Homo sapiens: one gene and its partner. The protein of the gene in region 1 purifies or fractionates together with the protein of each later gene. This does not show direct contact. Each region holds a gene or a part of one and is shown on either strand. Other genes may lie near its edges.

Region 1 (3,824 bases):
CAAGCCTCAGTAATGGTGGACACCCCCCCGCCCCCGCCGCCACCAAGTTCAGTTGTCGCAGTTTGACTTCAGACTGCTGTGTTGGCAGTGAGAATTTCAAGCCAGTGGTTCTTAGCTTGCTGGACTCCGTGGGAGTGGGACCCACTGAGCAAGACCACTTGGCTCCCTGGCTTCGGCCTCACTTCCAGAGGAGTGAATGGTTCTGTCTCGCTGGGATTCCAGGCACCACTGGGTTACGAAAAAAAAAAAAAAAACTGCAGCTAGCTCACTGTCTGCCCAAATTGTCTCCCAGTTTTATCCTTGAAACCCAGGACCCTGGTGGTGTAGGCACACCAGGGAATCTCCTGATTTGTGGATTGCAAAAACCATGGGAAAAGTGTAGTATCTGGGCTGGGTAGCACAGTCCCTCACAGCTTTGCTTGGCTGAGGGAGAGAGGTCCCCTGGCTCCTTGCACTTCTCATGTTGGGCGATGCCCCACCCTACTTCTGCTCACCCTCCGTGAGTTGGACCCACTGGCTAACCAGTCCCAGTGAGACGAACTGGGTACCTCAGTTGTAAATGGAGAAATCACCCACCTTCTGCTTTGGTCTCACTGGGAGCTGCTGACCGGAGCTGTTATTCGGCCATCTTGCCAGATTCTCCGAAAATGCTTATTAAGGAGTTTACTTCTCATTTCTCTAAAAGATACTTGGGAGAGACAGTTTATTTAAAAGTATTACATCTCTTAATATATTGAAAACTTTTCCTGTGAGGTTATATTAAATTTACAACTTTTTTAATTGCAACAGAGATAACATAAGCAAACGTACACTTACTTTGATGAAAAACTTAAAATGCACTGGGGACTACTATGATAGAAGCCACTTGCTAACATTGGATTTATGGTTTGCTTTCTTAATATGTTATATAGTAAGCCACCATTTATTGAATGGATTAACTACATGGGACCCTCCCTTCTATGTTTTATCTGTGTACACATACCCTTACACCTTGGGGCCCAGCTTAACAGCAAAGTTCAATAGCTCCTGTCTCCTGCTGAACATTTAGCATATTCCAGGATAACTTCTGCCATTTTACATTTTCCTCCTCCGTCACTAATCACACATCCAATTCCACAGATTTGGCATCTTCCGATTTAAAAGTGGTGTATAAGGATTTAGTATATATTGAAAAATATCTCTCAAGATTCTCTTGAGAGTTAACTGTGTAGAGTATAGATTTTACTTTGCATAAATGTAGGTGAAATAAACAGATTGCAAGGCTATTGATGCTGTCACATTTTCAGCAAATGTAAAATTATGTATGTATACATGTATATATATATACACACACATTTTTTTTAATTTAGGATTTGCTTTCCCATATGCTTCATATGGACCCACATCAGCGGTATACTGCTGAACAAATATTAAAGCACTCATGGATAACTCACAGAGACCAGTTGCCAAATGATCAGCCAAAGAGAAATGATGTGTCACATGTTGTTAAGGTAAAACAAACATACTTTTATGTGCCTTCGAGATATCAGATACCTAATAAACCCATTGTGTGCCACTTGCTGATGACACTTAAATAATTCCTTAAAATATCTTTATTTTTTAAAGATAGATTTTTTTAAATTAACAACCATGTACTTTTCTTAGCTTACTTTACTACTGCCTTTCAGATGAAACAATAAAAATTTCTTGATTGTACCTGCCGTGCTTTTGAGAGATGCTGGAATTAGGATTGGGCTAAATGCAAGTTTCATATTGAAATAAAAGATTGCTGTTAGTTCTTAATTTATAACTGTTCGTGAAACCATTCCTATATCCATATACATTGAATCAAGGTTTTAAATGTTAGTGTTTTAACAATTTTTTGTAAAAAGCATAGTTATTGAAATGAAAAACATACAAGTAATATTGATTCATCAGTGCACAGATCTAATATATTCAATTATTTTCCTAGGAAAACATTTTGTTCTAGATATATGTCTCATGATATCATGTGAAAGTTTTTTTTTTTTTTAACTCCAGAATTTGTACTTAGTTTGTGGCATTTTCTCATTACTTTAGGGAGCAATGGTTGCAACATACTCTGCCCTGACTCACAAGACCTTTCAACCAGTCCTAGAGCCTGTAGCTGCTTCAAGCTTAGCCCAGCGACGGAGCATGAAAAAGCGAACATCAACTGGCCTGTAAGATTTGTGGTGTTCCTAGGCCAAACTGGATGAAGATGAAATTAAATGTGTGGCTTTTTTCCTATTCTTATCAAAGGCATCGTTGTCTGCTAAATTACTTGAATATTAAGTAATATTAAATCCCCATTTTTAGGGGAAGTGAGATTTAAAAAACCATTCACAGGTCCACAATATTCATACTATGTGTTTGCAGTAGTGTTCAAGTGTTTATTTAAGCATATAATTGGTGTCCACCAGGTCCTCACAACTTCTCTGCACACAAGCTTCTAAAATTCCTTTCAAATAAAGTTACTTTAATATTTTTTTTCTTGTTTCATACAATTATGGTTTGGGGAGTCATTACCAACAATCAGTATACATATATAATAGTATAATGACAAGCAATGTTAGTATTTTTAAACATCAGATCCTGAAGGATAGGCTTTTTCTAATGAAAGAAAAACAACAAAAACTTATTATAAAAGCTTGTTATTCCGTAAAACCAAAGGACTCCATTCATTTGACTCACTGTAGTTACTAAAATGTAAACATAGTGGTTTGGTGCCAGAGCAAAATACATTTGTGCTAATATATGAATTCTTGATATAGTTGGTGCCAAAGTTTTTATAGAAGAATTATATCTCAGATAATGTGTGCAGGCAGATCTGTATATTATCCATAATAAGTGGCCTCATTTAGAAATAAAGGTTTTTATAAGGCTTCTGTAAATTTTACATCATGGAAATTTAGTACAAGTGAAACTTTTTTTTTTTCCAAAGGCTTTATACTGTTGGTGTAATCTTATAAATAGGTCATAGTTAAGCCTTTGAAAATGAAGTATGTGGTGTTGACACTATCCTGGTGTTATATAAACTGACTTTCAAGTTAACCAATTGGATTGTAATCATCATCTATCCCCTTTATAAATGAACTACACTGTTGTTTTTCTGACTTCGATGTGCTTTGAAGTACAGTGTAGCATATCATTCTACCTTGAATCCTATGATAATACAGTTGACATCTTGCTGTAGTGGACTTGTGCATATAGCACACATGATATAGTATATTGTATTACAGTAAACTTTAGACAATGCTACTTAATCATTTTACTTCATGAAGATAAACTAACATTTTAAATATGAATAATATTAATGGTCTACAAAAAATTTGAGCACATTTTAAAATCATATTTATAAAAAACTGGCCAAATTGGTCTTATTTAATGTATAATTCAGAACCACTGTGTAGTATGTATTCTTTTCTCTAAATGATGAAATGCTAAAGAATCATTTCACGTTGTTGAAGAAAATACCGTTGCTACAACAACAGCAGCAGCTACTACTGCTACTACTACTACTACTACTACTACTACTACTACTACTGACAGAAAGAATTCATGAATGTAAACTGGAGGATATCACAGTTTTCTTTAGTGAATATAAGTGAACTACTTGTGCGTGTTAGGTGTACTATTTGCTATGTATTTTATTTTGCTTTATTCAGAGAGAAAGTTGATTACTGAGTGCTGAATTATACAATTTAGGCTAGGAAACTCGTAACTTTGGTATTTAATAAAAGAAACTATACATATTCTGTTTGTAATGTAAATAATCTATACCCCATGCACAAATATCTGTTTCCTGGGTGTGATATATTAAAGTA
Region 2 (3,824 bases), on another chromosome or scaffold:
ATAAACAGCTGAAAGCCTTTTTATGACTTGGCTCCAATAATTTATTTATTTATTTATTTTTTTTTGAGGCAGAGTTTCACTCTTGTCGCCCAGGCTGGAGTGCAATGGCGTGATCTCGACTCACCGCAACCTCCGCCTCTCGAGTTCAAGTGACTCTCCTGCCTCAGCCTCCCAAGTAGCTGGGATTACAGGCATGCACCACCACACCCAGCTAATTTTGTATTTTTTAGTAGAGATGGGGTTTCTGCATGTTGGTCAGGCTGGTCGCAGACTCCCGACCTCAGGTGATCCACCTGCCTTGGCCTCCCAAAGTGCTGGGATTACAGGCTTGAGCCACCGTGCCCAGCTGGCTCTGAGAATTATTTAATGACAAGGCACTGGCTTAATTTACAATTAGCTATGAGTTCTCTGTATTACTCAAGAATTCTGGTATAGTAAGAAATATCTGGACTGCAAGTGGTATTTACGGTCATGACATTTTTATGAATGCTACATTTATCACAGTGAAGTTTGATTACATTGATTAGACAGGTGTTGGTTTCCCTTCTGGGGTTTTCTTTTTCATGTGTTGGAGCCCATATATTTTCTTTCTACCATGGAAGGCCTGAAGGCCTCAGCCCTGTGTCCCCTGGGGCTCATATGACCAACAAAGGCTGGAGCCAAGAACTTACCCGGACAGAAGCCACCTCCCGGTTGGGCAGCACGAGTTCAGGGATGATCACTGCAGGTGTGAACGGGAACGGGGTCAGCGGGGTCGGGACACTGCCCACCTGGACCAAGGCTGGTCACGAGCCCAGCTCAGGGCTCATCCCCCTAAACCTGCCCTCAACCTCTCTACCAAAAGAGACCCCTATTACAGCCACCACTGGGCCAGTAGTTAGCAAGTCATCCACCTCCCATTGTCACAGGTGAGGTCACAGGCCCACAGGACCATGCGGAAATGGAGGCCCAGAGAGGGAAGTCCTGGCCCAGGGCCAGACATTAGGTCGGACAGAGCTGGAATGAAAACTCCAGTGTTGGCTGGGCATGGTGGCTCATGCCTATAATCCCAGCACTTTGGGAGGCCAAGGCGAGCAGATCACTTGAGGCCAGGAGTTCAAGACCAGTCTGGCCAACACAATGAAACCCTGTCTCTACTAAAAATACAAAAATTAGCCAGGTGTGGTGGCGCATGCCTGTAGCCCCAGCTACTCTGGAGGCTAAGGCATGAGAATTGCTTGAACCTGGGAGGCGGAGGTTGCAGTGAGCTGAGATCGTACCATTGCGCTCCAGCCTGGGCGACAGAGCAAGACTCCGTCTCAAGAAAAAAAGGAAAGAAAAAAGAAAACTCCAATGTCCTCTCCTATTGCAGCCCTAGGAAGATGCAGGATTAGAGGCCTTCCCCCCTTTCTAAAGGCTCCCCCTGGGGTCCAAGGAGGGTCTGTCGGGGTTGCTCAAAGGCGGCCTTATGGAGCAGGGGTATGGTGTGTGAATGGGGTTGCTGCTTACCAAAAGTCTTATTCTCAGGCAGAAAATAGGGTGCATTGTCATTCACGTCCTCAATGGTAATGAGGAGGCTTCCTAGGAGACAAGGTCAGCTGGCTTTGGCTCTGGGCAAAAGCTTGACCCAAAGAGCCTGGGCCTCAACCCTGTGCCCCACAGCCTCAACCCCATGCCCCGCAGCCTCAACCCCGTGCCCCGCAGCCTCAACCCTGTGCCCCGCAGCCTCAACCCCGTGCCCCGCAGCCTCAACCCCATGCCCCGCAGCTTCTCTCCCATGTGTTCCCCCATGCTCAGTCCCCTTCCCTGCTCCTGACCCAGAATGCCTGATCGGTCTTCTCTGGCCTGTGTGGGTGGGAGTATCATCCCAGACCTCAGAGCAGATAAGCAGCTTGTCAAAGTCACACAGCAATAGTGGTGGGCCAGGATTGGGCCCAGCCTAGGTAGATCTCACCTATGACATTATACTGACACATTCTAACTATATAAGCTGGTTGTTTAAATACCCACTTTCTGCCTCAGTTTCCTCATCTATAAAATTGGATAGGGAACACCTACCCCATGGGTTGTGTGGAAGTGGAAAAATTCTTACAAGGTGCCTGGTGTAGTTCTTGGCTGTCATAAGGACTCAATATATGCTAGTTGTTAATGTGATTATTATTGCTATTTGGTGTCAGAAGTGGGATACAAGCACACATCTAGCTCTGCAGTGTTATCTTTCTTTCACAGCATCTTGTAAAATAATGGCATTAATTTGATGCTACTGCATGCCAGGCACTGCAATAAATGCCATACATCCATATTCTCATTGAATCTTCACAGCCCACCCCACTGCCCAACTCCACTGGACAGATGGGGAAACTGAAGCTTGGAGAGGGTTTGGGACTTTCCCAGTATTTGCAGCTGGAAAGGGCTGGAGCCAAGATCTGAGCCCAGACCTTGTGAGTTCCAGCCCAGGGCTCCTTCCCGCGGCCCCTAAGCTATGGCCTGCCAAGCCCTGCAAGGACAGGCTGCCTTACCATTGTTGCTGTAGGCCTGGAAGCCGGGGTCCGTGGCTAGGTCACAGGCCCGCACAACCAGCGTGACCAGGTCACAGGCCTCGTAGTCGATGGCTTTGCTCTGGTTGATGTACACAGAGCCGTTGGCCGCCACTGAGAACCAGCCCCAGCATAGGCTGCCCACATCGACCCCGGCCTTGGTGCAGAGAATGTTCACAAGCTGTATCTCCAGCTGGGCACTGGTGTCCACATCCGAGGCAACCACCACAGCCACCTGGCCGTGCTGTGAGCCATTCTCAGCCACACGGATGCCCCGGAGTGAGGCTACATCCAGGGTGGGGGGATTGTCGTTCACGTCTTTCACATTCACGCAGACGTCTACTATGGTCTCACCCCCCTGGGGGTCTGGGTTCTCAGCACTCACTGTCAAGTTGAAGACGGGCTGTGTCTCGTAATCCAGGCTCACGTCCGGGGGCAGCCGGAGGTAGCCCTCAGCCCACCCAGCCCCCAGCACCAAGCCTCGGATCATGAAGTAGTTGGCACCACTCCCCGACAGGCTGAAGCTGATGCGGTTGTTGGCTTCCGTCTGGTCCGCGTCCCAGGCCTTCACCACGCCCACTAGCACTCCTGTGGACAAGGGGCAGAGCTCAGAAGGACTCCTGACCCCGCCATCGGAAGCCTCCTCTGCCCTTGCCTCTCTTGGAACTCGAGGTCCACCCTGACAAAGCCACACTGGGTCCCAGCCGCAGTGTCTCTCCTGGCCCAGGGAGCACATACCTGGATCCTCCTCCTTCACCGTAAAGTTGTAGCTGGACTGATTGAAGATGGGCAGGTTATCATTGATGTCCTGCAGTCAGAGACAGGTCTGAGTCCCCGGGATCCAATCTCACCCTCCCCAGAGCCAATCCGAGAAACCAATAATCCCTGTGCTCCAAGGCATGGACTCTACTAGTGCCTCAGACCTCACTGCCCACTTCCCAGATGAGGAGACAGGCTCTGAGAGGAGGGAACTTGCCCAGGTCACACACCCGGGGTTCAGGGACCTACAGTGGGACCTTGGCCTTACACATCCATCCTCAGGAAGCCCTGCTTGCTTCCTGTTTCTCTGACCACAGCTCAGGACTTGTTCTAGACCCTGCTTTCTAGAAGCACAGTTCTGGGTCCCCACCTGCGACCCTGCCTGGCCCAGCTTGACTCCCATCTCTCGGATTTATTGTGTTGGCACCAATACCATTATATGTCCACAAAGGCTCCAAGGCCCACACTTTCCCTTGTCCCCTCCTACCCCTGTCCCTCCTGCACACAACTGAGCCCACAACACCAGCTCTGTGCTCAGTCAGAGCTGGG

Evidence for each region.
Region 2: the proteins of RPS6KA6 (region 1) and CDHR2 purify together in Homo sapiens (affinity purification with mass spectrometry; one large-scale study listed by BioGRID and IntAct). This does not show direct contact.

Annotation. Positions count from the first base shown.
Region 1 is NC_000023.11:84,062,637-84,066,460, reverse strand, and holds part of RPS6KA6 (ribosomal protein S6 kinase alpha-6), read left to right. Parts: intron 1-1,349; coding exon 1,350-1,490; intron 1,491-2,058; coding exon 2,059-2,184; 3' UTR 2,185-3,824. UniProt on the Homo sapiens protein: Constitutively active serine/threonine-protein kinase that exhibits growth-factor-independent kinase activity and that may participate in p53/TP53-dependent cell growth arrest signaling and play an inhibitory role during embryogenesis.
Region 2 is NC_000005.10:176,583,690-176,587,513, reverse strand, and holds part of CDHR2 (cadherin-related family member 2 precursor), read right to left. Parts: intron 3,325-3,824; coding exon 3,255-3,324; intron 3,105-3,254; coding exon 2,499-3,104; intron 1,561-2,498; coding exon 1,489-1,560; intron 722-1,488; coding exon 672-721; intron 1-671. UniProt on the Homo sapiens protein: Intermicrovillar adhesion molecule that forms, via its extracellular domain, calcium-dependent heterophilic complexes with CDHR5 on adjacent microvilli. Thereby, controls the packing of microvilli at the apical membrane of epithelial cells.